Linked DNA regions of Homo sapiens: region 2 is linked to region 1. Evidence: fine-mapped expression QTL. A gene starts in region 1. The other region holds a variant in brackets. All regions are shown on one strand. Distances are from middle to middle. Region 1 holds the start of SORCS3 (sortilin related VPS10 domain containing receptor 3). Region 2 overlaps CFAP58 (cilia and flagella associated protein 58).

Region 1 (2,911 bases):
ACTTTGAAACAATTGAGTCCGTTCAGAAACGGACTGGGGAGAGTGAGGGCACGACCTCAAAATCCTAGGCAGCAAAATGAGGTCTGGATCCTCCCTGGAAGAACAGACATCTCGACTACTCTCTCGCCCCACCTCTGGCCGGGAGGTCGGGGCAAGGAGAATCCCTCAACCGAGAAGATCTGGCAAGTCCCCGATCCCACCGGGGCCTTCCGCCTCTTTTCCCTCATCCCCTAGGAGGCTTTATCAGGTTCTAACCGCTTGTAGTGGGGGCCGTGGGTGCTCGGGGCGCCAAGAGGAGGGGGCTGCCGAGAGCGGCCTGCCTAGTTCTCAGCATTGCCTCTTTGACCACTCGCAGGCTCCTGGAAATGCAAACACAGCCCGTGCGTGATCCGCACGCGACCAAAAGCCGAGCGCACACCTCCCGCCCCCGCCCCACTTGCCATCGCTCACACTAACGTGCACACATGCTCGTGCAAACGCGCACGCACGGAACCGCGCGCCCCCTCACACCCAGCCGCGCTCCCGGCCCGGCTCAGCCAGGTGCCCCCACGCGGCAGCGCCCGGTCTGCCCGCCGGCCCCCTGCGAACCCCTCGCCTCACGCCCGCCTGCCTGCGCGCACGCACGCGCACGCACGCATTCCCCACGCCCCCGCGCGGGGGCGCAGGCCTTGGGTGGCGGGGTTTGGCCGGGAGCCGGCCGGGCCAGGGAGCGGCGAGCAGAGTCCAGGGTGCATCCCGCGCTTGGCTTCCGTGCGCAGCCTCCCCGCGCGGAGGCACCTGGCTCCCTCTCGGCTCTAGAACGCGAACAGTTGGCGTTGAGCACACAACTCCTCCTCCTTCTCCCCCGAGACCCCTGTACCCTCCCCGCGCGCCATCTCCCGCCCCTCATAACAGGCCCGAAGAGTAAACCCCCAAACGCGTCCAGAAGCGGCTCCCAACTCTTCGCCGGGAGCACGTTGGAGGCTGGATTTCGGAGAGACTCGGGATTGGGGTCTATTGCCGGCCCCTCCTGGATCCGGCTTGATTTTCATATTTTAAGAAGATTTTCTTATTACCTTTGATTACTCCTTTTTACCAAATTTCTGGAGGAGCTCAGTGGGGAGGATTGGGGGGAATCTGATTTTAAGAAAGAAAGCACCGAAGGGGCAATTATTAATTTTCCTCGGGTTTGGAATCACCCTCTGGACAAGAGAACGGGCGAGCGGGAGCTAGGAGGGAAGAGTGGAGAGGACCGGCGAGGCGCGCCAGCCGGAGCCACCTCCTTCCCGGCCGCCCCCTCCCCACTCCCCCTACACACACACGCTCGCTCGCTCGCCGGCGCGCGCACACCCCCCGCGCCGGACCCGCACCTCGGCGGGCGCCACACACTCGGCAGCCCGAGCCGCGGTAGCCGCAGCGGGATGGAGGCGGCGCGCACGGAGCGCCCCGCAGGCAGGCCGGGGGCGCCGCTTGTCCGGACGGGGCTCCTACTCTTGTCGACGTGGGTCCTGGCCGGCGCCGAGATCACTTGGGACGCGACAGGCGGTCCCGGACGCCCGGCGGCCCCGGCTTCGCGGCCACCGGCGTTGTCTCCACTCTCGCCGCGGGCAGTGGCCAGCCAGTGGCCGGAGGAGCTGGCGTCGGCGCGGAGAGCCGCCGTGCTGGGGCGCCGGGCCGGACCAGAGCTGCTGCCCCAGCAGGGCGGCGGCAGAGGCGGTGAGATGCAGGTGGAAGCCGGAGGGACATCACCGGCAGGCGAGCGGCGGGGCCGGGGCATCCCAGCTCCTGCCAAGCTTGGCGGCGCGAGGAGGAGTCGCCGGGCGCAGCCCCCAATCACCCAGGAACGCGGGGACGCCTGGGCCACTGCTCCGGCCGATGGTTCCAGAGGAAGCCGTCCCCTTGCTAAGGGTTCCCGGGAGGAGGTGAAGGCGCCGCGGGCTGGGGGGTCGGCGGCTGAAGACCTCCGGCTGCCCAGCACCTCCTTCGCGCTGACCGGGGACTCGGCCCACAACCAAGCCATGGTGCACTGGTCGGGACACAACAGCAGCGTGAGTACCCACCCGGCGGCGGGTCCGCCTGTTTCCTGACACCGAAGGGGAATGGGGGGGTGGGTGGGAGCGAGGGACAGATAGTTGCTCGGGGGTCGAGGCGGGGGACGCCTCGACTTTTCGAGATAACAGGTTTGTCCGATTCCCCCCACGCCCCCAACAGGTTAACGGAGTTTGTTGTTAGACGCTGTGTGTGTTTGTTTACTGGAGACCCTAGGCTTCGGCCGCCGGGAGGGGAGTGGAGGAAGGGGCTTCTTAAAGATGAGTGGGGGAGGGATCTGTGCTCACTTTCTCCAATACTTGGCTTGGAGGGTCAGTTTTCCTGTTTGCGGGGTGCTTGAATTCTTGGATGAGAAAAAGGGCTGACTTGGGGCGGGAGCCGCTGAACAGACCGATTCCTGCGGCTGCCGGGCTCCCCCTACCCCCACCCCACCCCCACCCCCCCTCCCGTCACGCGAAAGGGAACCCGGAAGGCCATTCGGACTCCCAGCCTCCTGCTCGCCTCGGGGTCGCTGCTATCCGCTCCAGGCGCGCAGTCCTCCAGCCCAAGAGGGAGGCTCGGCCAAGTCGGCCCCCAGCCTTGGCCTTCAGGTAACCCCGGTTCCTCCTTCAAAGTCCAGGGAGCGGCCCTGGAAAGCCGTAGCAGAGGCCGTAAAAAAAAGTTTAAAGCGTGAAGCGAAATTCCACACCCATCCAGCGCTCATGCCACACCGCTCGCCCTCACGCACGCACAGGCACACGGAAGTCGCTCAGCAGAAAACTCTCGACTTCACCATTGCGTCCTGCGCCACAAACGGCTCCCTGAGCGGAGTTGGGTGCCTGAGCTTCCTGCACACCTCTCCACCCGCTTTTCCCCGCCACCGGGTTCTCCTGGACAAGGATGT
Region 2 (2,911 bases), 250 kb before region 1:
AGGCCAAGGTGGGTGGATCACCTGAGGTCAGGAGTTCAAGTCCAGCCTGGCCAACATGGTGAAACACCATTTCTACTAAAAATACAAAAATTAGCTGGGAGTGGTGGTGGGCACCTGTAATCCCAGCTACTTGGGAGGCTGAGGCAGGCAAATCGCTTGAACCTGGGAGGTGAGGTTGCAGTGAGCTGAGATTGTGCCATTGCACTCCAGCCTGGGTGACAAGAGTGAACCACCATCTCAAAAAAAAAAAAATAAATAAATAAATAAAAATAAGAAAAAGTAAAATGGTTGTGTATTACTTTAGTATCCTGATTTAAAAAATAAATAAACACTATTAATAACCTTGCCTTTCTTTCAGGGACCAAATAAAATTCCACCTTTCCCAAGAAGCTTTATTAAAAGTGATCTCTAATTCCTCTGTACTTGGCTCCCCTCTGGCAGTTGAGGAGGCCCGTGTGCACGTAACTGTTACTTGTGTATGTCTGCCTCATTCTACACACTGGCTTCTTGGGGGCGAGTCTTATTCAATTTTGAGTTCTTCATATTGCTTATTTACTAAGTAAATACTCAAATATTTTTTGAACTAAGAATGAATGGAAAGCATAATTGGACATCTGAGTTAACTAGTCAGAGGCTCACTTTTAAGTATCTGTATCAAGTTATTTTCTAACAATATATTTACTTGTGACTATGGGTCTGCCCTTCCTTTAAATTCATGTGAAACATGTTACCATGATGGATGATTTTATCTGAATTATCATTGGCATTTTTAGCTGTGAGTGACTTCCAGACCTGGTCTCTTCTTCCTTCTGAGCTGCAAAACAGCATCAACATTTGCCTTCGTGTTCTTTCTTGCTTAGAGAAAGAAAAGTGAACTTGAAGATGCTAAACTTCTACATTATATTGTATTCATTTAGCTTGGCATTTGCCAGTGAGGAAGAAGATCCCCTTTTGTGCCTGAACTGGATGGCTCAGAATCCCAAACCTTTTCCTATGTGTTTGTCTCCATCAACACTTGCAATAATAATAGTGCATGATAAATAGCCACAACATCTCCGTGGGATACAAAAACAAGCACTTATTTCTTATTCACACACCTGCAGTTGACAGAGGTTCAGCTGACCTAAACTGGGCTTGCCTGGACTTGGCTCTGGGATGTGGATTGGGCTCAGTTCTGGACCACATGTTTCTTATCCTCCACGTGCATGTTCTTCTCATGGGGGAAGGAAGGAGAACAAGAGACAAAGCCACGCATACAGGCACATGTCATGTCTCTCTACTTGTCTGATATTCTGACCTCCCATTGGCTATAGCGAGTCACATGGCCAAGGCTAACATCAACAGCAAGGGAAATGCACTTCTCTCTTTAGGTTGTGGGACAAGGGGAGAGAGTGAACATTTGTTAAACCGTAAGATAATCTACCCCAGGATTACAGCAGTTTTTATCCTCATGATTTTCCTTTGCTGCACTCTAAATTTCACTATTCAGATAAATTGAGAGGCATGAGAAATGGCATGGTAAGTTGTG[A/G]TCTACCATATTTCCTGCTTTCTGAACTTTTACATGTTCTAGATAAAACCACTCCTAGTAAATTATTAAATCTGCTGAACATTTTTCACATGATGCACTTGCCTCATTTTAGGATCTCCCTCTTTTTTCATTTCAAATATTAAACTTCTGGCAGTCACCTCGCAGACATTTTATATGCCAGAAAACATTCTTTTGCAACAAATCCCTAACAACAAATTTCCTAGCTCTTTGCTCATTTGCCTATAACACTGTCAAGCAAAGCTCTTCAGGACAGAGATTCCAGGAAATGAATAATAATGTGCTTTCAAGGACTTAATGCAAGCAAAGAAACCAAAAATTGATTAAAGAAATATTGTCCACTAGATAGATATCTTCATAATGAAATAAAGCTCCTGTTTCATTGATGTTAATTTGAATTTTATACAGAGCCTCTGTAATTGGGTAGAATCCTGGAGAGAGGAATCAAGGGAACACAAATTATAAGCTTTTTCTATCATAATAAAAGAAGCATGCTTCATATCATTACTTTTCCTGCAGAACAGGATTTGATTCGGAGGAAAATCAAATTAACTTTTTAAAGTACTAGTATTATGTAACGTGACGTAGTGTAAACTATCATAATAATTTGTTAGCATTTATTAAATGATTAAATTACTATATGCTAAGTACTTATATGCTGGCGTAGACATATATTCTCTCACTTAAATCCTCATAATAGCCCTGTGAGATAGATATTATTATATCCCCCATTCATAATATAATATGTTATGCAATTGAATCAAAGCCATAGATATGCCTCTCTAAATTCAAGATAGAGGGTAAAATAACAAGGCAAGAAAAATAGGGAAGACTCAGCATTTCGCAAGCCAGGGCGCATAGTTGTTTTCTATTATTGCAGAGTGAGTTTTTCAGTTTCATTATGAAGGTAAAAGCATTGTCAGCATTCAAACCATTGACATCAAGTCAGAAAAACTTATTGGAGAAGTTTATTGTACTGATATTTCATCAAATGTACATTAAGGGGTTCCAAATGCAATGACCTACTTTCTAATCCCACCTTGGTCTATGTGATGTTTTGGCTATGCTGCAGTTTTCCTGTATGCGTTATTGATTTCTATCTCACTCTTATTTCTATTGGCAGGTTGTTTTAACGGCAACAGAAAAGGTAGGAGTAGGTTATAAACTGAGGCTGTACTTCTGTCGTGCACTGTAAGCATTTTCTGGACTCCCCTGAAGCCTAGGAGTGCCAGGAGCACCAATTCTCTGGCTGTAATAAAACTTTCTATATTTGGATGTGATTTATCTCATGAGTTGGTTTGAGGTATCTCAAAGTGTATATTAATTAAGCTCCAGCCCCACAGCTGGCAGCCTGTGTCTCTGACA

What was found. PIP is the estimated chance that this variant, and not a neighbour inherited with it, causes the effect.
Region 2: its variant is the best candidate, but not a certain one, in a credible set for the expression of SORCS3 in whole blood (TOPMed, PIP 0.67).

What each region holds. Positions count from the first base shown.
Region 1 is chr10:104,639,928-104,642,838 of GRCh38, forward strand. It overlaps SORCS3 (sortilin related VPS10 domain containing receptor 3), which reads left to right and starts at 1,363. Exons shown (of 27, transcript NM_014978.3): 1 at 1,363-2,027. The coding sequence starts at 1,401.
Region 2 is chr10:104,386,139-104,389,049 of GRCh38, forward strand. All of the region lies in intron 9 of CFAP58 (cilia and flagella associated protein 58), which reads left to right. Among named protein-coding and RNA genes, the nearest start is that of CFAP58, 34 kb to the left of the region's middle. The variant A/G (reference allele first, on the strand shown) is at 1,529.